Linked DNA regions of Homo sapiens. The protein of the gene in region 3 interacts with the protein of the main gene of each other region in a biochemical or structural test. Each region holds a gene or a part of one and is shown on either strand. Other genes may lie near its edges.

Evidence for each region.
Region 1: of the proteins of EIF4EBP1 (region 3) and MAPK14, one has a biochemical effect on the other in vitro, tested with the Homo sapiens proteins (one study listed by BioGRID).
Region 2: of the proteins of EIF4EBP1 (region 3) and LRRK2, one has a biochemical effect on the other in vitro, tested with the Homo sapiens proteins (3 studies listed by BioGRID).
Region 4: of the proteins of EIF4EBP1 (region 3) and ATM, one has a biochemical effect on the other in vitro, tested with the Homo sapiens proteins (2 studies listed by BioGRID, with this or other methods).

The regions. Positions count from the first base shown.
Region 1 is NC_000006.12:36,072,808-36,079,834, reverse strand, and holds part of MAPK14 (mitogen-activated protein kinase 14), read right to left. Parts: intron 6,963-7,027; coding exon 6,851-6,962; intron 6,145-6,850; coding exon 6,115-6,144; intron 5,787-6,114; coding exon 5,739-5,786; intron 3,988-5,738; coding exon 3,873-3,987; intron 3,299-3,872; coding exon 3,227-3,298; intron 2,001-3,226; exon of another isoform or gene 1,971-2,000; intron 1-1,970. UniProt on the Homo sapiens protein: Serine/threonine kinase which acts as an essential component of the MAP kinase signal transduction pathway.
Region 2 is NC_000012.12:40,227,975-40,235,001, forward strand, and holds part of LRRK2 (leucine-rich repeat serine/threonine-protein kinase 2), read left to right. Parts: intron 1-4,299; coding exon 4,300-4,409; intron 4,410-7,027. UniProt on the Homo sapiens protein: Serine/threonine-protein kinase which phosphorylates a broad range of proteins involved in multiple processes such as neuronal plasticity, innate immunity, autophagy, and vesicle trafficking.
Region 3 is NC_000008.11:38,026,413-38,033,549, reverse strand, and holds the start of EIF4EBP1 (eukaryotic translation initiation factor 4E-binding protein 1), read right to left. Parts: upstream 3,017-7,137; 5' UTR 2,977-3,016; coding exon 2,832-2,976; intron 1-2,831. UniProt on the Homo sapiens protein: Repressor of translation initiation that regulates EIF4E activity by preventing its assembly into the eIF4F complex: hypophosphorylated form competes with EIF4G1/EIF4G3 and strongly binds to EIF4E, leading to repress translation.
Region 4 is NC_000011.10:108,324,059-108,331,085, reverse strand, and holds part of ATM (serine-protein kinase ATM), read right to left. Parts: intron 5,777-7,027; coding exon 5,542-5,776; intron 5,029-5,541; coding exon 4,861-5,028; intron 3,442-4,860; coding exon 3,328-3,441; intron 2,066-3,327; coding exon 1,848-2,065; intron 873-1,847; coding exon 665-872; intron 1-664.

The DNA.
Region 1 (7,027 bases), on a different chromosome or scaffold from region 3:
ACTAGCTGCATTTCAGTTGCTTAATAATTAGCCACAGGCAGCTGGTGCCTATAACCACCACATTGGATAGCACAGATATAAAACATTTGCAATACCACAAAAGTTCTAGTACACAGTTCTTACTTACAAGCCCAAACCACCAATTCCAAATGCAAAATGATCAATAAATAAGGAAAACAGGGAGAAAACTGGACACTCAAACAATGAGTACCTTCTAGAGCAAGCTTTTCCAACCCAGGGCCTGCGGGCTGCACGTGGCCCAGGGCTTTGGATGCAGCCCATCACAAATTTGTAAACTTTCTGAAAACATTACGAGATTTTTTTTTTGCAATTTTTTTTAAGTTCATCGGCTATCATTAGTGTATTTTATGTGTGGCCCAGGACATTTCTTCTTCCAATGTGGCCCAGGGAAGCCAGAAGATTGGACACCCCTGTTCTAGAGGTTGCATTTAAATATCATAAATAAGTGACAGGTGCATGTCTTTCAGGCTGAAGGAAGAGGGTATGAGGCCAATACATTCTCCAAAGGTTTTTTAAAGAGGAGTTCTGCAAATTAGAAGAACAGCGAAGAACAGAATATTGGAAAAGAAATTGTGGCCTATGTGACAGGTAGCTTTGGATTATATTCTCTGGGTCTTGGTTTCCCCATCTATTAAAAACAGGGGATTCAACTAGATGTTTTCTAATTAACTTTCTGATCTCATTGGTACTTTTCAAAAAAAATGAATAGAGATTACTAACATCTTCAAGACCAGCCAAGATTAAACTAAAATTCAACTGGGTTAAACTCTAGTTGTACTCAACACTAGCTGCAAACTAGAAGACTGTGCTTTGACCCATGACAACAAAATGGAGTCTTTGGGGTGGTCCCCAGGCATCTAGAGTTTTTAAAAGCTCTGCAAAGTGATTCTGACACACTATGAGGGTTAAGAACCACTATGCTGGAACACAAGTGACCGTATAGTTCAGGCAGGAAAAGATAATGGGAAACATTTTCCTCTTGTCAGGCAATCAAAGCTGTATCTACACAGATGGCAACTTACAAGAGAAAGGTTAAGTATATTACAAATAAAAATCCTTTGAATTCGACTTTTACAATCCAGGAGAGAACATCTGTCTGAAAAAGAGCCAAGTAGAATAAAATAAATAACTAAAACCAAAATTTTGAAATGAATTCTCATGTATTAAAAAATGAATCCCTTATTAAAAAGTTTAAACACTAGGTTGTTTATCTAAAGCTCACAGAAGAAAAAGACCTAAGCACAAAGGGAAGATTTCCTACAGGCAGAAAGTTAGCATTTAAAAGGGTCAGGGAATAGACAGGTGTCTGTGAGACAGGACCACAAAGGTACAAGACTCACACTGCTTCGAAAACTTTCTAACACTAGTCTGCCAAGGAGTTCCATCCTTTCCTACCTATCACAGAATTAAAAACAAAACAAAACATTAATGATTCATAGGTAGACAATTAAGTGAGAAGGTGAAGGGGTAATCTGTTTTGCAAGGCCATTACTGAACATGATGGCTAACATTTACTGGCAGGCTCGTCTCAGTACTTTCCAGTTATTTTCTGGCTGAATTCTTACGACAACCTTGTGAGTATGTATGATTATTATCATTTTACGGTTAAGGAAACTGAGAGAAATAGAGGTTAGGAAACTTACTCAAAGTTACATAGCTGGAAATAAAAGAGCTAAGATCTAAATCCAGGAAATCTGGCTCCAGAGCATGTGCTTAACCTGTATGTTATACTGCCTTTCCCTCTCTGCCACCTTGTGTGTCTACACCGGCATGGAGGTCTGTGACTGACTAAATGGTAGCTGGAGATACAGACACAAGAAGAGGAAGGGGAGCAGGGAACAGAGAATAGCATCAGGACAGCAGCTACTCTAGAGGACAAAGCAAGGATGGGACTCTGAGATATGTACCTGAGGAAAGGGGGAAGTATGAATTTTCCCTAATTCTCTTACCTTGGACTGTAATATATATATACCAAATTTCTGAGAAACAGATATAAGGTGAATGAAACAAAGGACAAAGGAGAAACACCAGGTATTAAACTAATTTAAAATCCAGAGGTAGGGAGTAATAAGGTAAGCTAAATACAGGGAGACTGAACTCTGTTATCAATCCTAATATTCAGAGAGAAAGAAACAGCTTTACCTGAGAAATAGAGGTTTTTTCAGTTCATAATGAAAGTACATTCTCTCTAGCAGAAGATAGTTAGAACACGTGGGTAGATATCATGAACATCATAGCCATTACAGAAGTATATCCCAAACTGTAAGCAAGTGAATTGACATTCTGGTTTATAAACTCAATTAGTTTATTTAGGTAAGGGACTAAAATGGCTTTTAGATCTCTAGGCATAATAGATCAGAGGTAGCATGTCTAATATTGCCTAACCAAAACCACCTGAAGGCTAGTTAACTCAATTCTATTAAAAAAAGAAAAAATCCCCAAAACTAATTCTAGACATATATTTTAACAATCTTTCTCACCTAAACATCTTCCATAAGTAGAACTGATGAGAGTTCCAACAGACCACATTTTTCATGACATTAATACTAAACCATGAAACAAGCATACCGCAGATAGGAAAGGAGCTAAAATAAAGGGGCTATAATAAACCATAAACTAGACAGTAAGTCTTGGAGTAAATTAGGGTTTGGCTGCAATCTGGGAAAAAGTTGTGCTGGAAAAACAAAAGTACATTACATGGTAAGCTTTTCACTTCTTGCTTTTACTATTTGTTGTCAAACAACAAACATAACAAGTAAGCAGTATATCACTGCAGGTACCAAACATAGCCCTTTTAATACATAAACATAACAGCAAGATGCCCTTCATTTATAAATGGGCATCTTGTGCTCATTAAGTGTTTATACAAGAAGACTAAAACTGTCACTGGGATCTGGAGTTTCTCATGAGTATGCTCAGGTCTCAGAACTGCTGTGGGATGATTAATAAGGGACTGTTGCAAAAAGAAGACAGACTTGATGGGTTTTTCAACTTATGAGGAATTTTTCCAACTCACAAAAGTAAACTGAAGCCTCTTTCTTGGCAAGGCAAGCTACTCAGTTTGAAGAAAGACCTCATAATGCATTATCTAGACTATAAAAGCAAAATACTGAGAGTCTTCCCTAGAGATAAGTAAAAGGAGTATACACCCATGGACACTGGAATACAGATAAGAAACAAGAATCCAAAACTTTTTAAAGGATACGGTCTGTACCAGGAAACAATGTTCTTCCAGTCAACAGCTCGGCCATTATGCATCCCACTGACCAAATATCAACTGGCAAAATTAAAAAGAAGTAAAAGTATATGCAATGTCACTGTTACAATTCTTGGCAACAAATGAAACCGTAACTAGGGGTGAAATATTCAAATTACTATTTAAGACATCTGAGGCTCAACAATCATACTCATTTTTACAGAAATAAATAGCTTACTAAGATCTTCACCTGACTAAAGGGCTGTTCAAAGGTGGGGTAAGTCAAAACACACTTAAGAGAAATAAGCTGTTTAAAAAGGGGCAAGTTTCTTATTAGTAGAATGGTAGATTCTTCCAAGTAACATTGAGGGGTTAAAATTATGGACTAATTGTCTTTAGGTATAAGTACTCAGAGAATATATTCAAAATCTAAATAAATAAAAACCCAATTGCTAAATCACAAGGTTTAAAAGCTGTGTATAAAACCCCACTTCCCCATCTGAGGAAGTGAAATATTTTTACTTGCAGGCTTTAAAAGGATCACTGAGGGAAGAAAAGACATTTCTTCCCACTCCCACCATCTCTATTTCTGAGAATCCCAAATGCATCCAACATGGAATTAAATAAGGCCCTAAATAACCAAGGCGAGTAATACCTGTCTGGTTGTAATGCATCCAGTTCAGCATGATCTCAGGAGCCCTGTACCACCTAGTGGCCACGTAGCCTGTCATTTCATCATCTGTGTGCCGAGCCAGTCCAAAATCCAGAATCTAAAGGGCAGAAGAGGAACAGACAAACTGCTAAGACTTAGAAACAGGCAGGGAAAAAAAAACAAAACAACAACAACAAACAAACCTCTGTTGCCTTATTAAAAAGGAGAACAAAATAGCACTTTCATAAAGAGATTTCCTGGTCCATACTTAGAATGTATGGTAAATATACAGCAAGAACTTAAAATGAAATTACAAAAAGCAAAACAAAAATGTCACTCCCAGGTATTTAATCAAGTGCAATGAGAACTTACGTCCATACAAAGGTTTGCACATAAACATTCACAGTTGCTTTACACAGCCTCAAACTCAAGCAAATGTCCATCAGCAGGTGGATAGATTTAAAAATTCTGTTATGTTCATAAAACAAAATACTATTACCAATAAAAAGGAAGAAACCACTGACACACACAACAATACCGAATCATTACACCAAGCAAAGGCCAGACACACAAAAATACACACTATATGATTCCATTTACATGAAACTCCAGAAAAGATAAACCTAATCTATAGTGTTAGAAGCAGATCCATAGTTGCCTGGAGCCAGAGTTAGGGGTGGAGGGGTAGGGATTGACTAGGAAGGGACACAATAAACTTTTTTTTTTTTTTTTTTTTTTTTGAGACGGAGTCTTGCTCTGTTGCCCAGGCTGGGGTGCAGTGGCACTATCTCGGCGCACTGCAAGCTCTGCCTCCCAGGTTCACGCCATTCTCCTGCCTCAGCCTCTCAAGTAGCTGGGACTCCAGGTGCCCGCCACCATGCCCAACTAAATTTTTGTATTTTTAGTGGAGATGAGGTTTCACCGTGTTGGCCAAGATGGTCTCTATCTCCTGACCTCATAATCCACCCGCCTTGGCCTCCCAAAGTGCTGGGATTACAGGCATGAGCCACCACGCCTGGCCATAAACTTTTTAAAGTAATCCAAATGTTCTTGGCTGGGAGCAATGGCTCACACCTGCAATCCCAGCACTTTGAGAGGCCGAGGCAGGTGGATCACGAGGTCAGGAGATCGACACCATCCTAGCCAACATGGTGAAATCCCATCTCTACTAAAAATACAAAAATTAGCCGGGTGTGATGGCGTGCACCTGTAGTCCCAGCTACTCGGGAGGCTGAGGCAGGAGAATCGCTTGAACCCGGGAGGCAGAGGTTGCAGTGAGCCAAGATCACACCACTGCACTCTAGACTGGGCAACAGAGTGAGACTGCATCCCAAAAAAAAGGAAAAAAAAAGAAATGGTCTTTATCATAAATGTGAGTTAAGTGGATATATAATTTTGCCAAATGAAATGGTGCATTCTAATGTACAGACATTTTTTCAAGTTAAAAAAATGAAATGGAACAAAAGTTCTAGAGCTGCTTGCTATTTAGAAACAATTAATTCACTTATTTTTTATTTGAATTATTTTGAGTGAGTGGGTTTCTGCCATTTCTCCTCTTAGAAATGTATTTAATCTAGTTATCACCTCTTTGGGCCTACTTACTTGATATTTGACTATTATCCTCCTTTATTATGACTAATATATCAAATTTATAATTTAACTTTATGTTAAAATAAAAACAAGTGATGCCACTTTCAATGTCACTTAGCTTACTCAGAAATGGTTTAAATTTCAAAGTCTGATAATAAAAATAATACGAATTTCAGATAGTCATGGCTCACAAAGCTACTCCCTAAGAAAGTCTGCCTGCTTAGTCAAACATATAATCTCAAAGTAAAGCAAACAATGAATACTGTCTCTTCATTTTACCTTCAGCTCACAGTCTTCATTCACAGCTAGATTACTAGGTTTTAGGTCCTAGGAAGCAAATACAGGGAAGACAGGATCAACTTTATGATGCATGATCAATTCTCCCCCTACAGGTAATAATGAGGATCCAGACATAAAAGACTTCATCCAGCTATCAAAAGACAATCTCCATCCTACAGTCAATATCCAGTCCAAGTTAGCCTTACATAGAAAAAAACTACACATCTTCTTTCTTTAATCAGCTTAAACCTACAGTAAAGTTGCAATCAATCAACATTTCAATGGCTAAAGTTTAGATTAGGATCTTGGCTAAATGCCATTCTTCCACTCTCACCCCACTTCCCCAAAATAATGTAATCAAAGTCACAATACATACCCTGTGAATTATGTCAGCTGAATGTATATACTGCAAAAGAGAAAAAAGTCAAAGTTACCTCCAACCTTCTATTGTCATATTATATAACATATTTGCTGCACATTTTCATGAATCAGTAAGAACTGCTAGTGTTAATAGTAAGATTAGAAATCAGCATAAGTAACTATCAGTATTGTGTACATTTACCATTACTATAATTTCCACAGCCATTGACTCCACTCAGTTGAGCTTTTAATCTATTTTCTGGTTGGCACTCTGGAGCTCAATAAGGACTCAAAGCAGCTAAATATCAAAGATGGGTTTAATTTTAAAACACTGTTTATCTGCCCCTCCAACAAATAAATTAGTCTTTCTTGAGGATTTTTTGAAAATCTCAACATTACGCTGACCAGATATTAGATTACATCAATAAATTATTGTTTAGATGTAAGAATGAAGAGTCCTTATCTTTCAGATATGCAAACTGAAGTATCTATGGATGGTATTATATAATGTCTAGACTTGCTTTAAAATAATCCAGGGCTTGGGAAATACAAAAGAAACATGATTGGCCATATGTCGGTAACTGTTGTCACTGAGTGAACATGGCAGTTTACTGTACTATATGACCTTTACCTGTGATTTTATGTGTTTGAATTTTCCATTAGAAAAGTTGTTTACTTGTTTGTTTAAGCCCTAAAAGGAGGGGAGAAAGGGAGAATTCATTTTAAAAAATTATTACTTGTATTATCTGTACCTTTAGACCTCGGAGAATTTGGTAGATAAGGAACTGAACATGGTCATCTGTAAGCTTCTGACATTTCACAATGTTGTTCAGATCTGCCCCCATGAGATGGGTCACCAGATACCTAGAAATTAGTGAAAAGTTACATAACAATCTAGAACCCCTAAGAAAGTTCTTATCTTCAGAAGA
Region 2 (7,027 bases), on a different chromosome or scaffold from region 3:
TGTTAATCTGTTGATAGACATATAAGGTGATTCTGTATTTTAACTATTGTGAACAGGGCTGCAATAAACATGGGAGTTCAGATATATCTTTGATATACTGATGTTCTTTTTTTGGATATATACCCAGCGATGAGATTACTGGATCATATGAAAATTCTCTTTTTAGTTTTTTAAGATACCTCCATACTGTGTTTCATCATGGCTGTGCTACTTTATATTCCCATCAGCAGTGTACCACCATTCCCCTTTTTCTGCATCCTTACCAGCATTTGTTATTTTTTGTCTTTTTGATAATAGCCATTCTGCCTGTGGTGAGATAATATCTCATTATGGTTTTGATTTGCCTCTCCCTAATGATTAGTGAAGTTTAGGATTTTTTTTTCATGTACCTGTTAGCCATTTGTCTGTCTTCTTTTGAGAAATGTCTATTTGGATCTTTTGTCCATTTAAAAATAAGACTTTTTTTTTTTTTTTTTTTTTTGCTAATTGAGTTTTTTTAGTTCCTTATGTATTCTGGTTGTTAATCTTTTGTTGAATGGATATTTTGCAAATATTTTCTCCCTTTCTTTATGTTGTCTCTTCACTTTGTTAATTATTTTCTTTGTTGTGCAGAAGCTTTTTAGCTTGATATAATCCCATTTGCCTATTTTTGTTGTAATTGCCTGTGCTTTTGAGGTCCTACCCCAAAAATCATTGCACAGACCAATGTCCTGTAGCATTTCCCCAGTGTTTTCTTCTAGTAGTTGCATATTTTCAGGTCTGAGATGTAAGTCTTTAATCCATTTTGAAATGATTTGTGTATATGGTGAAAGCTGTGGATCTAGTTTCCTTCTTTTGCACAGCCAATATTTGATTCTCACTGAAATCTCACTGCCCTCCTGGAAATATTACCGGATGTTTTACTGTCATAGCGAAGTGAGAGTAAGCTGCTCACTGAGGATCAAAGAGCTTGTGACAGACCTAAGACTCAAGTCTTCTCACACCTTCAAAATCTCTTTCCATCATACAATCTACTAGCTGCTGAATTCGCAAGCTTTTTGTGCAAGCTAGTAAAAAGCAAAATGGTTTGATACAAATACTGTGGCCATGCTAGGTACAATGACATCAATTTAAATTATCATTGGTCTTAACAAGGGGATGTAGAAAGGGGTCTCCTACTGACATTTTAATACTCACTTAAAAGTAGTATTTTTCCTTCAGATTTCTTTATATTATTAGTATAATTACTGTAAGTATCCTTTACTGCTTTATATGTTGAATTAGCTGGAAGTGCCAAAAGAAAAACTCTTAATGATAAATTTAAGGTATTAAGGTAAATTTCTCCTTCATTTAATTTAATAGTAATTCTTAATTACTATTTAAAATAAAGATTAAGGTTTGTTTCTAGATGCCATTTAACATGATATTCCAGACTGCCAGTTTTATTTTCAAAGTTTGTTTCATATTTTATTAATGTTTCTTCATAAATGACAGTCTTTAGAAAATTGACGGTTAAGCTAGGTGCTTTATATTTTTCTTTTCCTGCCTATCTTTTCACTGTGCTCCTAAATTTTACATCTCTTTATTCTCAAGGGTTCAACCTTTGAAGAAGGGGAGCAAAATAAATGAAAGTGGCTAAAATTTTTTCTTTAACCCCTAGACTCTTTCCTGTTGTGCATTAATTACATGCTTGAGTTTTTAGAATAATTATAATAAAGTAAAACTACCAATTTAATTGTATTGTAACTGTGCAAGATGGGAACCTTCTCTCTTAGAGAGATAAGCTTTTAATTGAATAGATTAATGGATCAATTGTTACCTCTGCTTTGCTGCCAGAGATTCTATTTAATCACAGAAGTTCCATGTAGTGCTGGAGAGCTCAGTTGCCTGAATCTTTTTGCAAAGCGTTTACTGATACTGTTGCTTCACCAACCAAAACAAACAGGTTTTTTCCTTGAGTCAGCTTTGTAGGTACAGAGATGAGTTTGGCATCCTATGTGACTTTTTTTTTTTTTTTTTTTTTTTTTTTTACCACCAGAAGCTGTTCAGAATGTTATTTTCTTAAATAGTTCGGAAAAAAGTCTTGATGTATTCTATGAAAGCACAAAAATAGTCAGTTTCTATGACAGCTGGATTGTCAACGTCTGTTCAGCTTACGTGGAGGAGGATGTCCTACTTGAGTAGTATAGGTAGAAATAGCTATCAGAAATTGCCGCCTTTGAAAGCAATTTGAAATTATGTAAAAGGAAGTAATGACAAAATAAAGCAATTTATGTTTAATCTGGAAAAGATCCAAAAGTAATATTGTAAAGAGATCTTGAGTAATCATTTTTATCTTCCTAAAATAGCCGTTGTTTACTCCCGTAAGCGAGTAAGAAACTTGTGCCATTATTCCTTATTGGGTGCATATAGATTTCTCACCTTGTCATTCAACTCCTTGCAATATTCAACTTTACTTATGCATCCAGCCTTATCCCAAAATAGCCTCTTCCCTGTAGCAGCTTCCTTATCATGTAGCAGCCTACTCTCCTCACCGCTCATCCGTTCTTATACAATCTGGCTTAAGCTCTACCTCTTCATATTATATTCTTCTCTGAGTAATTTCAACTCACACTGAGTCTTACTTTCAGTATTTCTATTATATTGGTATTTATTACACATCACACTTAGATACTTTTCCATTAGTCTCTAGAGGGTACATATATGCACTTTCTCTTTTTTTTTTTTTTTTTGACCATGTCAAGTATAGTTCTATAGTATAATAGAATGAATTGGAGATCCTTTACATTTAGAGAGGGAGGAGTCTACAGTAGGAAGAATAGGTTAATTTTCATCTCCGGTTTGAAATCAGGACTTTCAATTTTTTTTTCAGAGGTAAAGAGCAACTTAGTCAAGTTGGCATCTTGTAAACAGACTGAGTGAAGATATACTTAAAATGCATCTATAATTTCATATTTTATTTCGAAATGTGAAAGAGCCTACTAGGGGTGTCTGTGATCTCTAGACCTTATCAATTCATTCTAGAGAAATCTGGAGGGAGCCATTGAGGAGTTCTACCTCCTGTCTATTTTATAGAGCTCTTTCTCTTTTTCTCCTATCAGATGTAGATTCAATTGCTAAAAATGCCACGTTTCTTGCCTCTATTATTCTAGCTTCATTACTTGGGGAGCAGCCATTCTGATAACTTACATTTTGCTACTAAAATCTCCAACTTCACCTAATCCTTCATTATAAGCCACTTCATTTTTTCCTATAATTAAAATTTTAAATATGTGGAGGAAATTCTGTCAGGTAGATATGACTTAAAACCTACTAAGGGCCAGGTGCAGAGGCTCACGCCTGTAATCCCAGCACTTTGAGAGGCCAAGTCAGGAGGATTGCTTGAGCCCAGGAGCTTGAGACCAGCCTGGGCAACAGAGCGAGACCCCTGTCTTCACAAAAAAAAAAAAAAAAAAATTAGCTGGGTGTGGTGGCACATACCTGTAGTCCCAGCTACTTGGGAGGCTGAAGTGGGTGGATCACCTAAGGACAGGAGTTCTAGGCTGCAGTGATCTATGATTGCACCATTGCACTCCAGCCTGGGTGACAGAGTGAGACCCTATCTCAAAAACAAAAACAAAACCAAAAAAAAAAAAAAAACAAGAAAAAAAAAGTACTAAGGATCTGGTATAGCCATTCTTGCACTTAATAATCTTGGTACAACCTCTAAAACTATTTTTTATAGTTTATTTTATTTTGCCTTATTTAGACAATTGGCATGTCTATGTTCTTCATAATTTAGAAATTATATGTATTTATATATATAAATTATATATATTATATATTATGTATAAATTAAATTATATATATATATAATATATATATATTTGAAATGGATTCTTGCTCTGTCATCCAGGCTAGAGTGCAGTGGCACAATCTTGGCTCACTGCACCCTCTGCCTCCTGGGTTCAAGCGATTCTCCTTCCTCAGCCTCCCGAGTAGCTGAGATTACAGGCGCCCATCACCATGCCTGGCTAATTTTTGTATTTTTAGTAGAGACTGGGTTTCACCATCTTGGCCACATTGGTCTCAAACTGCCGGCTGAAATGTTGTATTTTTTGTATGTCTTTCTGGTATGATTTTTGGAGAAAGGTGTATCCTAAGAATACGGCTTGCTTTTGTTTCTGGGTAAGCATTTTAGGGTATCATTTTGTTGTATAACCATTGTTTACAAGTGAGATAAGCATCTATTCCACTAAGATTGAAGAGATTCATGTTTGACTGAGTATGCTCTATTAACATTCTTTAAAACATGTGAATATATGTCTTTCTTGTTTTCAGGTGGGTTGGTCACTTCTGTGCAAATTAATAGAAGTCTGTCCAGGTACAATGCAAAGCTTAATGGGACCCCAGGATGTTGGAAATGATTGGGAAGTCCTTGGTGTTCACCAGTAAGTATGATAGATATGTAAAACAAATGGCCTTGAGTATTTATTTGTACACATGACAACCTTCCCTTGATACACTGTGTTTGCAATCCAAGGCTACTCCTGTGGAATTCTTTAAAATACAGATATTTTTCCTTGAGTCAATGATTTACATTTATAGAGAGCTTTAAACTCAGAAGTTTGATTTAGAAAGCAAACATTTAAGGTAACATGTCAGAAGTTATTATTTTAATAATATAATCATATAATTATAAAACTGGTTAAGTTGTAGATTTTTGATGAGTACTTTTGAATTCAAACCATGAAGAGATTTTGGCTTTTAATAATAGAATCGATACAAACCACTAGTTCTTAAAAAAATGGGAACTGAGAAAAGTTAGTTCTGTAAGTAGTAATTTGAAAGTTGATGTTCTACTGTCTTTAAATAGTACATTTATATATATATTCCTATATATACAGTAAGTTTAAACTATGGCTTTCAGAAAGAGTTAAGAAAGAGGAAATTAACTTTCAGCACATCTGTAGCCAAATCTTGATAGTAATTTTACCAGCTATGTTTTTGCAGTTTGCAGCATAATGGCTTCTTAGATGAGACTACTTCCTTAGCCATCATTAATTAAGAAAATATTTTCTCAAGAAGAATGTGTTTCCAGGAAAATACATTTTGGATAGCTTTGTTTCTTGACAGTTAAAAAATATCTTCTAAGCTACTGAGGAGGCTGAGGAAGGAGAATCACTTGAACCTGGGAGGCGGAGGTTGCAGTGAGCGGAGGTTGCAGTGAGCCGAGATTGCACCACTGCACTCCAGCCTGGGTGACAGAGCGACACTCTGTCTCAAAAACAAACAAACAAACAAACCTTTTGTCATTAACTTTAAATCTTTTTTATACCTAATATGACTTTTCTTTATCACAGAAAAGGAAATTGTGAATATTTTTTGGCTTCCAATGGTATATGGTTTATGAAAATTTAATTTATGAAAAATTTTCAGGTGTTTGTATTGCTGATCAGTGTCAAGTAGTGCTATAAATTTAGACAAATTAGAGCTATGTGTTTGTCCATAAGTGAACATGTCTGTGCTTATACATTTTCCCCTCTTTGACAAATGTGTTGCTCTTCTTGTTTTCAGTACATAAAGGGTGTGTTTTGGAAAGAGCATATTTACAATTAATTGGAGTTCTCGTCTTCAATCTAATCTCTGTAATTCTATGTATCAGTTCTAAAGTATACAGCATTTGATGAGGAATTACTCAAAATATACCAGTAATTAGGAATTGTAACTTTAAATGTCCCTTGGTTTGGGTGATAATTTCCAGGAAGTCCAAAGATGAGCCAGTCTATAACCTCAGGGAGTGTTTGGGAAACTCATCTAGTCATATTCCTGTACAAACCAACTGTTCAAATTAAATTACATAAAAGTTTATGTAGGAAATTTCATTCACTCACTCACTTACTCATTCACTCACTTTGTTCATCCAGTCATTCATCTTCTATTCATTGAATGTTTTTGAAGCCTGTCCTCTGGGTCAGAAACCATGCAGTTGTGAAGAAGATAGACACACTGCTGTCTCCAGTGGAGTGTATTAGATCACTCCCAGCAAAAATTGATTGTAAAACAGATTTCTCTTTTTTCAAGGCCTTTTCCCTCCAAAGACTTACCAGTACTGAAGAAAAATTTCTTCCGTGGTAATAAAGTCAGGAATTGTGGGAATGGTATAGGGAGAGGTAGGGGCAGGGTGATTAGGAGGAAGGCTGGCAGAGAATCGAAGACTGGCTTCATTCAGGTCCTCCAATTGCCAAATGGAGATTATGCAACGTTTCTTGAATACATACAAAACTCTAGATGTGGCCAGCTCAGTCTTCTTCCAATAATGTAAAGCCAAACAATGCTTTGCAGGAATAGACTAGAGATTATATTTTGGGATTAATAACATAGGGATTAAAATCTTATCTTGAACTAACTAAACATTATTGATATGCTAAATTCACTTTTTTTTTTTTTTTTTTTTTTTTTTTTTAGACAGAGTCTTTCTCTGTTGCCAGGCTGGCGTGCAGTGGCGTGATCTCGGCTCACTGTAACCTCTGTGTCCCGGGTTCAAGTGATTCTCCTGCCTCAGCCTCTCGAGTAGCTGGGACTGCAGGAGTACGCCACCACGCCCAGCTAATTTTTGTATTTTTAGTAGAGACAGGGTTTCATCATGTTGGCCAGGATGGTCTTGATCTATTGACCTCATGATCCCCCCGCCTCGGCGTCCCAAAGTGCTGAGATTACAGGCGTGAGCAACGGCCACCGGCCCACTACTTTTTAATATATCATTAATTTCTCTTTTAAAAACAGTAGCAATCAATAATTTAAATATTCAAATGAATTCTTAATTTATATACACAAACTAACATCTTTATTATATCTCTATATTTTAATATATCAACATGTCTAAGATAATTTATAAATTTACATCATATATAAAAATGGGTTTGCTCTCGATGTATATAAGGCTTCATGATATTTTGAATATGGAGTTGGGTGAAAATAGTGAATCTGAATATTTGAATTTGAATATTTATTGGAAAATAAGTAGTGCTTTTAACTTTTTAAATGAGACACATAATAGTCCCCTGTT
Region 3 (7,137 bases):
GCCTGGCTCTCCACACCACGATTTAGAGATCAAAGTTTACCTGGATGGAGCCATCTTTTTTTTTTTTTTGCTAGACTCCAGAGATCTGAAAGGTGAGGGAAGTTATGTTTCACTAATTCCTGAGTACTCAGAGTGTGGTATGTGCACCAATCAGTCAGAGCTAGTTAGAAATGCTGAATCTAGGCCGGGCATGGTGACTCACGCCTGTAATCCCAGCATTCTGGAAGGCCGAGGCAGGCAGATCACTTGAGGCCAGGAGTTTGAGACCAGCCTGGTCAACATGGTGAAACCCCCGTCTCTACCAAAAAATACAAAAATCAGCTGGGCATGGGTGGTGCATGCCTGTTGTCCCAGTTATTGGGGAGGCTGGGGTGGGAGGATTGCTTGAACCCAGGAGGTGGAGGTTGCTGTGAGCTGAGATTGCGCCACTGCACTCCAGCCTGGGTGATAGAGTGAGACCCTGTCTCAAAAAAAAAAAAAAAAAAAAGAAAGAAAGAAAAGAAAGAAATGCTGAATCTAGTTCCCACCCCCACCTACAGAATCAGAATATGCACTTAAATGAAGCCCCCAGTTATCCTCAAGCACCTGGAAGACTGAGAGGCAGTATTCTGCTCTGGAGCAAAAGGGTGTGACCATTTTGGCTGCAATGTGACCATTTTGGCTTCTCTGCCCTGGCAGAGGTGGGCTGAGGTGGGCTTTGGAGGAAGAGTCCACACCTTGGCTAATCGAGGCCGACCAGGCTTGCTTGACTTTAGTGGAAGTCAGCCAGGTTTCCCTGGCTTAGGGACTGTGAGCTGTACCTGCTCCACTGGACGACCAAACAGTGAGCTGGCTTTAGGCTCCTGGCACTGCTAGCTTCTTCCAGTGATCTCAGAAACATATGCTATGCCCTGATGCAGAAGTCCCTTCCCCACTCCCCCTACTGCTAAAGACCTTCAAAGGGAAGGGGATTTGCTGTGGTCTGTCAGCCCCCTGCCCACTCCCCACTTCCCAACCCAAAGTGAAAAGTGGATTTGAAGTTCCTATATTTTATATTTATTATTTATTTTAGAGATAGGGTCTCGCTCTGTCACCCAGGCTGGAGTGCAGTGGTCAATCATAGCTCACTACAGCCTCCAACTCCTGGGCTCAAGCGATCCTCTGGCCTCAGCCTCTGTAGTAGCTAGGACAACATTTTGTTGTTGTTTTGTTTGTTTCTTTGTAGAGATGGAGTCTCACTATGTTGCCCAGGCTGGTCTTGAACTCCTGGCCTCAAGCAATTCTCCTGCCTTGGCTCCCCAAAATGCTGGCATTACAGGTGTGAACCTTGGTACCCGGGCCAGAAGTGCCTATAAACAGTATCCTGGCTTCCAATTTGACCCAACAATCCAGCAATAAAGAGTGCAAAAAAGGGCTACCTGCGCCTTCAGGCCGGCCTCAGGGCCCACCCTGAACAAATCCAGCAGACACTTACACCCTCATTTGAAAGAACTCCAAAATTGTCAGGAATTGTCCTGGTAGACCATTGTGACAGAGACAAAGGAGAACAGCATGGACTACAAAAGACCCAGCAAGGGAAAGAGGATGAGTCGGGAATGGCAACAAGAGCCCCTGCGAGCTTTTCCTTGGCTCATTTCTAATAGAAAAGGAAGCATTTCTCCCTTCTCTGCCTGGTTGCTATTTCTTGTCCAATCTGGGAAAACGGTGTGACAATGGGCAACAGACACGTGTTCAAGCTCTGGGGCCTCAATGCCGGGCTCTGTAGAATAAGACGGCAGGGCTGGACAAGATCCCTAACCGTTCTAACAGTGTATGTTTTGGATCAAACAGCAGAGGACCTCGGATCTGGCCGCGCTCGCTGCTGGTGGGACAGCTGCCTGAGAAAATAAGCATGTGGCCCCCGCCCGCCACCTAGCCAAGCGCCAGGATCTGTCGCGTTTTCTAGTAGTATGGAAAGCAGCGTGGAGGAGAATGAAGGGAGAGGAGCAAAAAGGGGTGGGGGCAGTGCGACAATGAGAGGGGAGGAGAGAGCCACGAGGATTTATTTCATCATGCAAACAGGCGCGTAGGTTTCATCAGCGTCTGTGCGCTGGGGCTCCGGGGCTGGGAGGGAATGCCAGGTTCCTGAGGGCAGCCCGAGGCTGGCCCCCCCACCCGTGCCAGCTCAGCTTCCTCTTCCTCATCCTCTCCCAGGGAGGTCACACGGTGCCTCCTCCTCTCCCCGGACAGAAGAACGTGTTTTTCTGCACAGCCCTGGCCGTGGCGCCAGGGTCCCCCCCGCGGAGATCCCACTCGCGTAAATGGGGAACGTGCCACAGGTGCCCGGGAGGCGCTGCTGGAGCAGGCAAGCACCCCCAGATCCGAACCTCAGTCAGAGCGCGCGAGTCCAACACAAAACTCGGCGTGCTTCGGGAAGGAAAAAGGGCCCTGCAGGAATCGTTTATCCCAACAGATAATACCCATCCCATAAAAACACCAGGCCAGGCCTCTCCTGGATCGTGGGCCACCCTAACTCCGCCCTCTCCCGCTTCGGGAGCGCCCCCAACACCCACAAGGGGCAGCACAGCTCGGCATGTGGCTGTCCTGGAGGCGTGCGTGTTTGTTAGGTGTCAGCTGTCTGACACCTAACAGAAAGAGGAAACAAACGGGGCAGTTTGTAACTCGGGTCTGGAAGACGCACTCAGAGGGGAAGCGGGCGGCCACTTCCATGACCCTCGCTGTCTCTCCGATGCCCCTTTTCCGTTCTTTCCAATCACGGCGCCCTTGAGCCTGGACACCCGGTCCAATCCGCGATTCCCGATCCTCCCGCCCGCCCAGGAGCCGGCAAGCGGCGTCGCCAAGCCCGCGCCTACCTCCCGGGGTGGTGCTGAAGAGCGTGCCGCCGGGGGTCGTGCTGTAGTCCCCGGGCGGGAGCTGCACGCCGTCGCCGAGCACCACCCGGCGAGTGGCGGGGATGGCCCGGCTTGGGGTCTGGCTGCAGCTGCTGCCCCCGGACATGGTCTCCTGTGCGCTGCACCCGCGAACCTCTCGCTGCCCTCCCGCGCCTCCAGCCTCGCTCCGCCTCGCCCCGTGCCGCCCCGCCCCAGGACGCCCCTTCCGCCTCTCCCGCCCCACGCCCCTGGGATTTGTAGTCCGCGCCGCAGCCCCACCCAGCTCCAGGACGCTGCTTCCACGTGGGATCCCCCGCCGCCCCCCGACCCACTCCCGTCTGCTCACGGGCTCTTCCGCACGGGCGCTGGCGCCGCCCCGCAGCGACTGCCCCTCCGTCCGGGGTCCCTCCCCGCCACGCTGGCAGGGACGGATATGGGGATGGCGGGCGGGATAGCTCGCCTAAATTAATCCTTGGCTGGGTTGGGGGCGGCGACTCAGGACCGCGCGGAGATCCGAGCTGACCCGGCCCACTGCAGGAAGGCCCGGTTTCTGCATTAGGACATCAGGCCTGGTGTACCCTTCGGCACTCCCTGTTTCGTGCCTTAGTTCCTCAGATGAGAAAATGGGGATTGAGTAGTTATGCTCACCGCCCCCCGCCCCGCTTCAATTTCTTGACCTTGATGGGGGTGGGGGTGGAGGGGCTAACAATTCCGTTCCCGGCCTTTAGAGAGGGTGTGGGAGGAGGAGTGAACCAACCAGCGGCGTCCTGGGAGCTAAATTTAGAGCTGGGGGCGCAGAGGTGGGTGGTGGGGAAGGGCGTTGGAGAGGAGTAAGAGTGTCGAAGAGGTTTCCCGATAGCCCCTGAATTGAGTCCAACGTCCACCTGAGGTTTAGTAGGTACTCCTTGGATGGATGGATGGATGGATGGATGGATGGATGGATGGATGGATGTTCAAGGGGAGAGAGAAAAATGCAAGAAGGACCGAGGATGGAAAAGCTTGTTGGGTTTGAGAAGTTCTTAGCATTATGGGCACATATTGTGGGGAAGAGGGTGAAGAGGGGAGGGCAGTTTAAAAGGGAAATTGGGTGGTGCACCTGTAATCCCAGCTACTCAGGAAGCTGAGGCTGGAGGATGCTTGAGCCCAGGGGTTTGAGGCTCCAGTGAGCTGTGATCACACCACTGCACTCCACCCTTTGTGACAGAGACCCTATCTCTAAAAAAATATATAATAATTTTTTAAAAAGGAAATTGGGGTCAGGTCGTTGAGTTTTTCAAATTATGCCAAAGTGCTTGGACTTTGTCTTAGAAGGGCAGGAGATATCAGAGATCTTTTAAGCAGGGGGATGACATGATTTGAGTTGTTTTTTGGAAGGATAACTAGTAGCCAGTGGAGTTTCAGAATGGGCCAAGGAGGGCAAGGCCTGAGATAGGGAGACCTGTTGAGTTTGGTCTCACTTTTGAGGGAAACTTTAGGCCTACAGTGGCTAAGACAGTAGCCACCAGCTACAGGTGCACATTGAGCACTCCAAATGTGACCAGTCCAAACTGTCACAAGTTTAACATACACACCATATTTCAAAGACTTAGTGTGAAGAAAATCATGTAAAATACCTGAATAATTTGTTTCTATATTGATTGTATGTTGAACTGATAATATTTTGAGTATACTGGGTTAAGAAAAATACATTATAAAAATTAATTTTGGGCCAGGCGCAGTGGCTCACGCCTGTAATCCCAACACGTTGGGAGGCCGAGGCAGGCGGATCATGAGGTCAAGAGATCGAGACCATCCTGGACAACATGGTGAAACCCTGTCTCTACTAAAAATATAAAAAAAATTAGCTGGGCATGGTGGCGCATGCCTGTAGTCCCAGCTACTCGGGAGGCTGAGGCAGGAGAATTGCTTGAACCTGGGAGGCAGAGGTTGCAGTGAGCTGAAATCATGCCACTGCACTCCAGCCTGGCGTCAGAGCAAGACTCTGTCTCAAAAGAAAAAAAAATAAATTTCGGCTGGGTGCAGTGGCTCACGCCTGTAATCCCACCACTTTGGGAGGCCTAGGCGGGTGGATCATGAGGTCAGGAGTTCAAGACCAGCCTGGCCAAGATGGTGAAACCCTGTCTCTACTAAAAATACAAAAAAACAAAACAAACAAACAAACAAACAAAAACAACAGACCGGGCACAGTGGCGGGTGCCTGTAATCCCAGCTACTCGGGAGGCTGAGGTGGAGAATTGCTTGAACCTGGGAGGCAGAGGTTGTAGTGAGTAGAGATCTGCCACTGCACTCCAGCCTGGGTGACAGAGTGAGACTCCGTCTCAAAAAAAAAAAAAAAAAAAAATTAATTTCATCCAGGTGCTGTGGATCACACCTGTAATACCAGCACATTTGGAGACCGAGGTGAGCAGACTGCTTGGGCTCAGGAGTTTGAGACAAGCCTGGGCAACATGGTGAAACTCTGTCTCTACAAAAAAATTTAAAAATTAGCCCAGTGTTGTGGCTCACACCTGTGGTCCCAGCTACTTTCAAGGATGAGGTAGGAAGATGACCTGAGCCCCAGAGGTGGAGGTTGCCATGAGCCAAGATTGCACCACTGCACTCCAGCCAGGGCTCAAAAAATAAATAAATAATATAAGATAAAAATAGACCAGGCCTTGCTGGTTGCAGCGATGTGCACTTGTAATCCCAGCCCTAGCTGGGATTACAAGGCCAGAGGATTGCTTGAGGCCGGGAGTTCAGAGACCAGCCTGGGCAACATAGTAAGACCTTGTTTCAAAAAAGAGAGAGTTTCAGGCCGGGTGTGGTGGCTCACGCCTGTAATCCCAACACTTTGGTAGGCCGAGGGGGGCAGATCACGAGGTCAGGAGATTGAGACCATCCTGGCTAACACGGTGAAACCCCATCTCTACTAAAAATACGAAAAAAAAAAATTACCCGGGCATGATGGCAGACGCCTGTAGTCCCAGCTACTCGGGAGGCTAAGGCAGGATAATCGCTTCAAACTGGGAGGCAGAAGTTGCAGTGGGCTGAGATCGTGCCACTGCACCCATCCTGGGTGACAGAGCGAGACTCCATCTCAAAAAAAAAAAGAGTTTCACTCTGTTGCCTGGGCTGGAGTGCAGTGGCTAATTATAGGCACAATCATAACTCAGTGCAGCTTCCAACTCCTGGGCTCAAGCCATCCTCCCACCTCAGCCTCCCCAGTGGCTGGGATTACAGGTGCATGCCACTGCACTTGGCTAATTAAAGAAAAGAATTTTTTGGCCGGGCGAGGTGGCTCATGCCTGTAATCCCAGCACTTTGGGAGGCCGAGGCAGACAGATCACCTGAGGTCAGGAGACCACCTGGCCAACATGGTGAAACCCTGTCTCTACTAAAAATACAAAAATTAGCCAGGCGTGGTGGTGTGTGCCTGTAATCCCAGCTACTCAGGAGGCTGAGACAGGAGAATCACTTGAACCCAGGAGGCATAGGTTGCAGTGAGCCAAGATCCTGCCACTACACTTTAGCCTGGGCAACAGCAAGACTCCATCTCAAAAAAAAAAAAATTTTTGTAGAAATGAGATCTTGCTATGTTACCTAGGTTGGTCTCAAACTCCTGGCCTCAAGTGATCCTCCCTCCTCAGCCTCTTAAAGTTTTGGGATTACAGGCATGAGCCACTGTGACTGGCCCCTCTACCTTTTTCTAGAGCAGGAACTCATTCATATGGAAAAAACAGCTTTTATCTGAGGAATGGGAATCCTTTTAAATTATCAGGCCTAGACATTAAAATGAGACAGCAATCACGTCCCACTACCCCCTTTTGAGCTATGTATTCATCTCTTGAAACTGCTTGCTATTGTCACAAGTAGCCATAAATTAACCTATTAATAATAATGCTGCACTAAAGACTATATAGGGTGTGGACACTATAACTTAACAGTGTATAGCCAAGGCTGGGTGCAGTGGCTTACTCCTATGATTTCCACACTTTGGCAAGCCAAGGTGAGAGGATGGCTTGAGGCCAGGAGTTTGAGACCAGCCTGGGCAACAGAGAGACCCTCCCCCTTCATCTCTACAAAAAAATTTTTAAAATGTGGCCGGGAGTTGTAGCTCACGCCTATAATCCTAGCACTTTGCGAGGCCGAGGCAGGCGGATCACCTGAGGTCAGGAGTTTGAGACCAGTCTGGCTAACATGGTGAAACCCCGTCTCTACTAAAAATGCAAAAAGTAGCCAGGTGTGGTGGTATGCGCCTGTAGTCCCAGCTACTAGGGAAGCTGAGACAGGAGAATCGCTTGAACCTGGG
Region 4 (7,027 bases), on a different chromosome or scaffold from region 3:
TCCCCATAGGCCAAAAGTAATATTTAGTGTATACTACAGCAGAGATTGACTGTATCTATTATGAGTCTTATTATTTTCCTGCAGGAGAAACATTTTATCTCTAACCTTCAAATTGACTAACAATATATAGCTTGTCAACTTAAATTTAATATTAGGTGTCATCACTATAATCTAAGGTTTTCAAAGAAAAACTTATACAATACTGCTGTCTTGACATTTTCTGAAAAATATATTTTCTCTACTTACAAAAGTAATTTATTGTAAAAATCCCATATTTCTGCAGCAGGGGGAAAACCCACCTGTGATCACATCATCTTTAACTGCTTTCTAAATCCTCCAATCTAATGCCCCATTCTAGACCCTCTCCTATGGTAACTGCAAAGACATAGGACCAAGCTAAATTCTATCACCTCCACACAAACTTGCATCATTTACAGCTTGTCAGCTTATATAATACAAAGGAACTTTTGTAGAAACAAGACTAGAACTTGTAAATAATCCTAAATATGGATCAAAGTTTAGAAAACTACAAAATGCTACTTATGTGTAGAGCACTGGACCAAGTGCTAGGAATACAAAGAGGTATACACGATTCCTGACATCAAGGGGCTTATGTCTAAGTTTTTCAAGCACAGGGTAGAATATTGGGCTGAGTAACACTTGCCTTCATCATGCCATTGACTTCAGAAACTCCAGAATTTTCAAGCCAGAGGGAACAAAGTCGGAATACCCACATATCATGTTCTTCTCCACTTAATAAGCAGTTGATATAATTTTCAACTGCTTTACATAAGAAGCGTTTACGATCCTCTTTCAGTGCACGCAGGGCTAATTCATCCAACTCCAGCTCTCGCTGAACCTTTACTGTGTATCTTGCATAGAATAATTAAGGTAAAACACAAAAGCCATGAACTTTAACAGAACTACAAAATCACACATGATATACAACATTTAATGAAAAAAGTTGGGTTTTTATCCCAGGGAAAAAAGCAAACTTCTAAGGATTATAAAGGGAATAAACTTACTTTTGTCTTAACTGTGCAATTCACACACCTTCCTAAGCATCAAAGGACAAAGGGGACTCTCCCCAAGCTATTTAGCTAACTTACACCTCTGCTTACACTAAAATATACAGATTCAAGACAGGCTTAAATAAAGGGATTTAATTACATCAAAATAGGTAACTTTTGTAATTAATTTCAATATCTATCTCCTTTTCCACTATGATACCAACAAACAAACCAAAAAAGCAAAACAGAAAGCTAATATCTATATTCTCCACAATGAACTTAGAAGCAGAGCATGAATTATTCACAAAAGAACACGTCAATATCTTACATACTAATTTGTGATTAACTACAGTAGGACCAAGACAGACAGGGCACAGTGCCTCACACCTGTAATCCCAGCACTTTGGGCGGCCAAGGTGGGCAGATCGTTTGAGCCCATGAGTTTGAGACCAACCTGGGCAACATGGCAAAACCCCATCTCTACAAAAAATACAAAAATTAGCCAGGTATGGCGTGCACCTGTAGCCCCAGCTATTTCGGGGGCTCAGGGGGAGAATCAATTGAGTCCAGGAGGTCGAGGTTGCAGTGAGCTGGAGTACAGTGATCACGCCACTGTACTCCAGCCTGGGTGACAGAGTGAGACCTTGTCTCAAAAAAAAAAACAAAAAACAAAAACCGAAAAGAACCCAAAAGACCAAGATAATCTATATATAGTTAAGCCGACCTTTAGAGCTCAAAACTATATCAGATAAAAAGACCAAGTCACTCTTTCTATGCAAAAACACTCACTCAGTTAACTGGTGAACATAAAATTGTCACTTGTAGAAACCTAGTTACCTGTTTGTCTGAATTTTATGTTCCCTAAGGAGACCTACTTCCTCTTTGGCTCTTTTCAGGAGAGCTTGCTTGTTTTCAAATTCCGATGATTTCATGTAGTTTTCAATTCTTTGGTATTGAGTATCTGAAAACCGGGCTAATGAGAGAAATGCCTTCATTTTTCCATTTCTTAGCTCATCACTACTTTCTCCATCATAATTTCCAGCAACTTCTACTGCCTTCAAGAAAACACAACCAATTTAAATTATATTTACAAATACTAAATACATCTAAAGAATCACTCAAATTAAGGTAATACACTAAAATTTAACTTATATACATATAAAAGCTAGCTAAATTATATGAACTATTGCAAACTTGTCCAACCCACGGCCCATGGGCCGCATGTGGCCCAGGACGGCTTTGAATGTGGCCCAACACAAATTCGTACATTTTCTTAAAACATTATGAGATTTCTTTTGTGATTTTTTTTAAGCTCATTAGCTATCATTAATGTTAGTATATTTTATGTGTGGCCCAAGGCAATTCTTCTTGCAATGTGGCCCAGGGAAGCCAAAAGATTGGACAGCCCTGAACTATGGTATTTTCTTGACTTTTCAAAACAACTTTGACAGTGTAGAAATAACCCAGACAGCTAATACTTGTAAAGAACTCTGCAAAAACAGAGAACTTTATAAAATTTAAAGACAATCAGGCTGGGTGTGGTGGCTCAAGCCTGTAATGCCAGCACTTTGGGAGGCCGAGGCAGGTGGATCACTTGAGGTCAGGAGTTCGAGACCAGACTGGCCAATGTGGCGAAACCGTCTCTACTAAAAATAAAAAATATTAGCCGGGTGTGGTGGCACACTCCTGTAGTCCCAGCTACTTGGGAAGCTGAGGCAGGAGAATCGCTTGAACCCAGGAGGCAGAGGTTGCAGTGAGCCGAGATTGCGCCACTGCACTCCAGCTTGGGCGACAGAGAGAGACTTCATCTCAAAGAAAAGAAAAGAAAAGAAAGACAATCGCATCATGTGTTTCATGTTACACTTATTTAGTGAGGTAACTATTTCCAAAATTAGTGAATCTAAAGGAATAAGAGGGAGAAACAGGAAAGTCAAAGGGGCTAGTATATTGAAGCCTTTACTTGTGGGTGGCTGGGCTAATGAAGAGCAAGGGCTGACTTGCCTATTCTTAATCAGTTATTTTTGTAGATGCATAAATGAAGAAATGATCAGAAGCAACCTGCTGAAAGGGTAGCTGGTAGTGGAGGTAGGAAGGAGGAAGAAGAGATACTATACTTGGGCTTACTTTCAAAATTGGCTGCTTTGTTTTGTAACAATGTTTCACTCCACCCTAGAGACTATACAGAGCTACAACAGTAATAATATATAGAAAAATAAAACCATACTTTTATTTGCTTTGGAAATATATTGATCTTGATGAAAAGATGAAGCATATTCATGCTAAGTAACTATCTTAAGGGTTGCTCCAAAAATCTTACCTTTTCTAGATAGGTCTGCATGATGACCGCAGGATTTTCTAAGCACGTTTCTGCTAACCAGTTGCCACAAACCCTCAGACATTCTGTGTATGTAAGTTTTAGGCTGGGATTGTTCTGTATAAGAAAGGCAAAATCTTAAAATATAATGCATTACCATGACTGTACCCAACTGCCCTTCATGTACGGGGAAAAAAGCAGGTTAAAAATGTTTTTCCTTGGTGGGTGGGAAAAAAAAAGTTTTTCCTCATCTGCTTTTGCCATACAACTATTTTAATAATCCCATGTAGGAAATGATCATCCTCTGTTTATTATTATTATTGCCATTATTGGAGCAAGTCACATTTATTGAGTACTTATATATGTCAGACACTTTGTAAAGGCTTTATATATATTAACTCATTTAATTCTCACAAGAATCCTATTAAATAAGTACTATTATTACCCCAATTTGCAGATTAGAAAACTGAGGTACAAGGAAGTTGGGTAACTCCAGACAGCACATACTTCAGGGCCAATACTATTAAGCAATATTTACACATATCATATTGGCACTCAGTGCTTTGGTATAATGATTTCTCTAATAACAGAAGATGCTATACAATGAGTGCCCAACATCAAAAAGTACAGTAAAGGCCGGGCGTGGTGGCTCACGCCTGTAATCCCAGCACTTTCAGAGGACAAGGCGGGTAGATTGCCTGAGCTCAGGAGTTCGAGACCAGTCTTGCCAACATGGTGAAACCCCATCTCTACTAAAAATACAAAAAAATTAGCTGGGCATGGTGGCATGTGCCTGTAATCCCAGCTACAAGGGAGGCTGAGGCAGGGGAATTGCTTGAACCAGGGAGGTGGAGGTTGCGGTGAGCCGATGTCGTACCACTGCACTCCAGCCTGGGTGACAGAGCAAGACTCCGTCTCAAAAAATAAATAAATAAATAAATAATAAAGCACAGTGAGCTGATATTCACTAAGCAGGTACATGTCTGTGGGACACCACTGTAGACAAACCTTGGGGACACCAATGCCTCTACTTTATCCAGTGTGTATGCTGGGTTTACAGCTGAAGTAGCAACATAAGTTTGCAAAAACCAACAGGTAATGTTAGATAAAATATTAGATGTGATATTTTCAAAGCATTTGGATTGACAACCTAATTGTCCCAACTTGCTTTTATTTTCTAATTTAGTTCTCTCATTCATTTCCTCTTCCCTTTTTTCACTTGTCATTTCAAATTTAGAGTAGCTATTTCATTCATTTCCCACATACCTTTCTTGAATTCTATAGGAAGTTAAAGGCTTAATACTGGGATATATTAAATGAATCGACCACATGATGGACTGATAGAATTGTGATATATAGGAAAAAGTTTCTAAACTTCATTTACAAATTAATTTTCAAGACTAGTTTTACAATATCTTGTTAATAAATTACTAATTTCAAGGCTCTAATAAAATTGTTATTAAAAATATTTTAAAGTACATTTGTGTTTTTTTAAATAACAGTAAAACACTAATCCAGCCAATAAAAAAAACAAACCGCTGCACAGCTGGCATCCAACTTCTTGATCATTTGCTTGAGAATACTCAGGGCAAGACTCTGCTCCTTTTTTGCCCAGAATACTTGTGCTTCTTCCAGCTGCCACTCAGAGACTCCACAGCTAACTGAATTGTACTGTTTAATTTGAAATATTGCCCTTTCAGGGAGCTGAAATGAAAATGACATATGGGAATAAATACTTTTACTACTGATACTACTACCATGAATAATAATAATAATGAAAGCAGCAACTACCATTCATTGAGGACTTAACTACTTGTCAGGGACTATCTTAAGGACCTCTCTGTCTGCATGACATCTCCCCACCCCACGTCTGCCTATCTGTCTGTCTGTCTGTCTCTCTCTATATGTATGTATGTGTATCTGTGTGTACATACACACAGTATATAAAATCACTGAATTGTTATCAATATAGTAAGTTACGTATCTTCTCATTTTATAACCAGGAAATTGAGGTTGAGAAAAGATTAAGTACCCTTGCCCAAGGCTTAAAAGTCAGATCTAATTCCAAAATGGGAACTCTTAAACAATTATTTTTACTATATATTAATAGAGATCTCTATCTCTTAATGACATTTCTTTTTCCCTCAGGCTTTCTGTTTTTTAAATAATAAAAGGAAAGTCAAGAGGTAAGATGACATAGTTTTAAATTGTATTTACCTGAGTGTTCTTGAAAGTTCTGGCCAGTATAGAGAGTTCTACAAGGTGTTTGGTGAGAATGTCCTTAATACATTCTCTTTGTGAGTTGTCCATTTCCTTTTCCATCAGGATCTCCAAAATGACTGTGCGTAGAGCCATGATAGGCTCCTGAAAACTAAAATCACTGTCCTTGAGAAGCTGGGAGTGTTTCTGCCACTTAATATATACTTCAGAGAGTTGTCTATGTGTGACTGATCTGAATGCCACGACATAGAGTTCATGTAAGCAAGAGAAATGAAAAAAAAAAAAAAAAAAACTATGTAAGTTCTGGAACTTACGATATAATATTATAATAATACAAAGGAACTTTTGTAGTGACAAGACTAGAACTTGTAAATAATCCTACATATGGATCAAAATTTAGAAAACTACAAAATGCTATGCGGTCAGAGCTCTTAAGAGTTATTAGCAGAGAGGTCACAGATGACAAACATCAAAAAAAATTTTTAATACTCTGACATTACAAAAAGCAGCCCTTCTAAATACTCTTCTGAAACAAGAACATATTCATCAGACCTATCATAAAGAATGCCTCCATCTTTAGTCCTGCTTCAATACTGCCTGTAGTAATGAGGACATGTCAGCAAGGAAATGAGGGACCCCCTACTGGGGATGACTTGATGCATAATTATAGCTGTCAAAAAAATCACAATCCAGTGAAGGAAAAGCTGGCATCTGGCAAAGGTTTCATTTACCAACATTATTAAAGGAACAGAAAAGGCATATTGCACAATTAGTTTATATGAATAGTATCCTTCCCAAATAACTGAACTATGAAATACTACCCAATCCTTCAGGGACATTTATTGAAAGAAATAAGAAAGAGGAAGCAGGGAGAGTAAGATGACAAAGTGATGACTAAGAAATGAAAGCTCTTTTAGTTGCTTGATAGGGAAGGAACAGTAACAAAAATGCTAGGAACCAAAACTTCAATTCCTCTCTAAATGACCCTACCACAGCAGGTCTCAAACTTTTTGCGGAACTCCTTTACAATCAAACAAATTATTGAAGACCCCAAAGAACTTTCGATCGTTGGACCATATCTACTGATATTAGATATGATATCATATTAGAAAGACTGAGAAAAATCTAAAATGTATTAATTTATTCAAAAATAATAAATCTACTATATATCATAAATAACAATTTTTAGGAAAAATAACTACAGTAGTTTCTCTGTATCTGCAGAAAATTGGTTCCAAGACACCTTGATAATGCTGATGTTCAAAGTCCCTTATTTAAAATGGCAGGGCATTTTCCTATTACACGTAACCTCTAGATTGTGCTTTTATTAAACATTTCCAAAAAGTATTACACATAACCTCTAGATTACGTGTAATAGGAGAATGTGCACAGGTTATACATAAATCTCTAATTACATATTATACCTACTATAATGTAAATGCTATGTAAATAAGTGTTATACCCTATTCTTTAAAATTTTTTT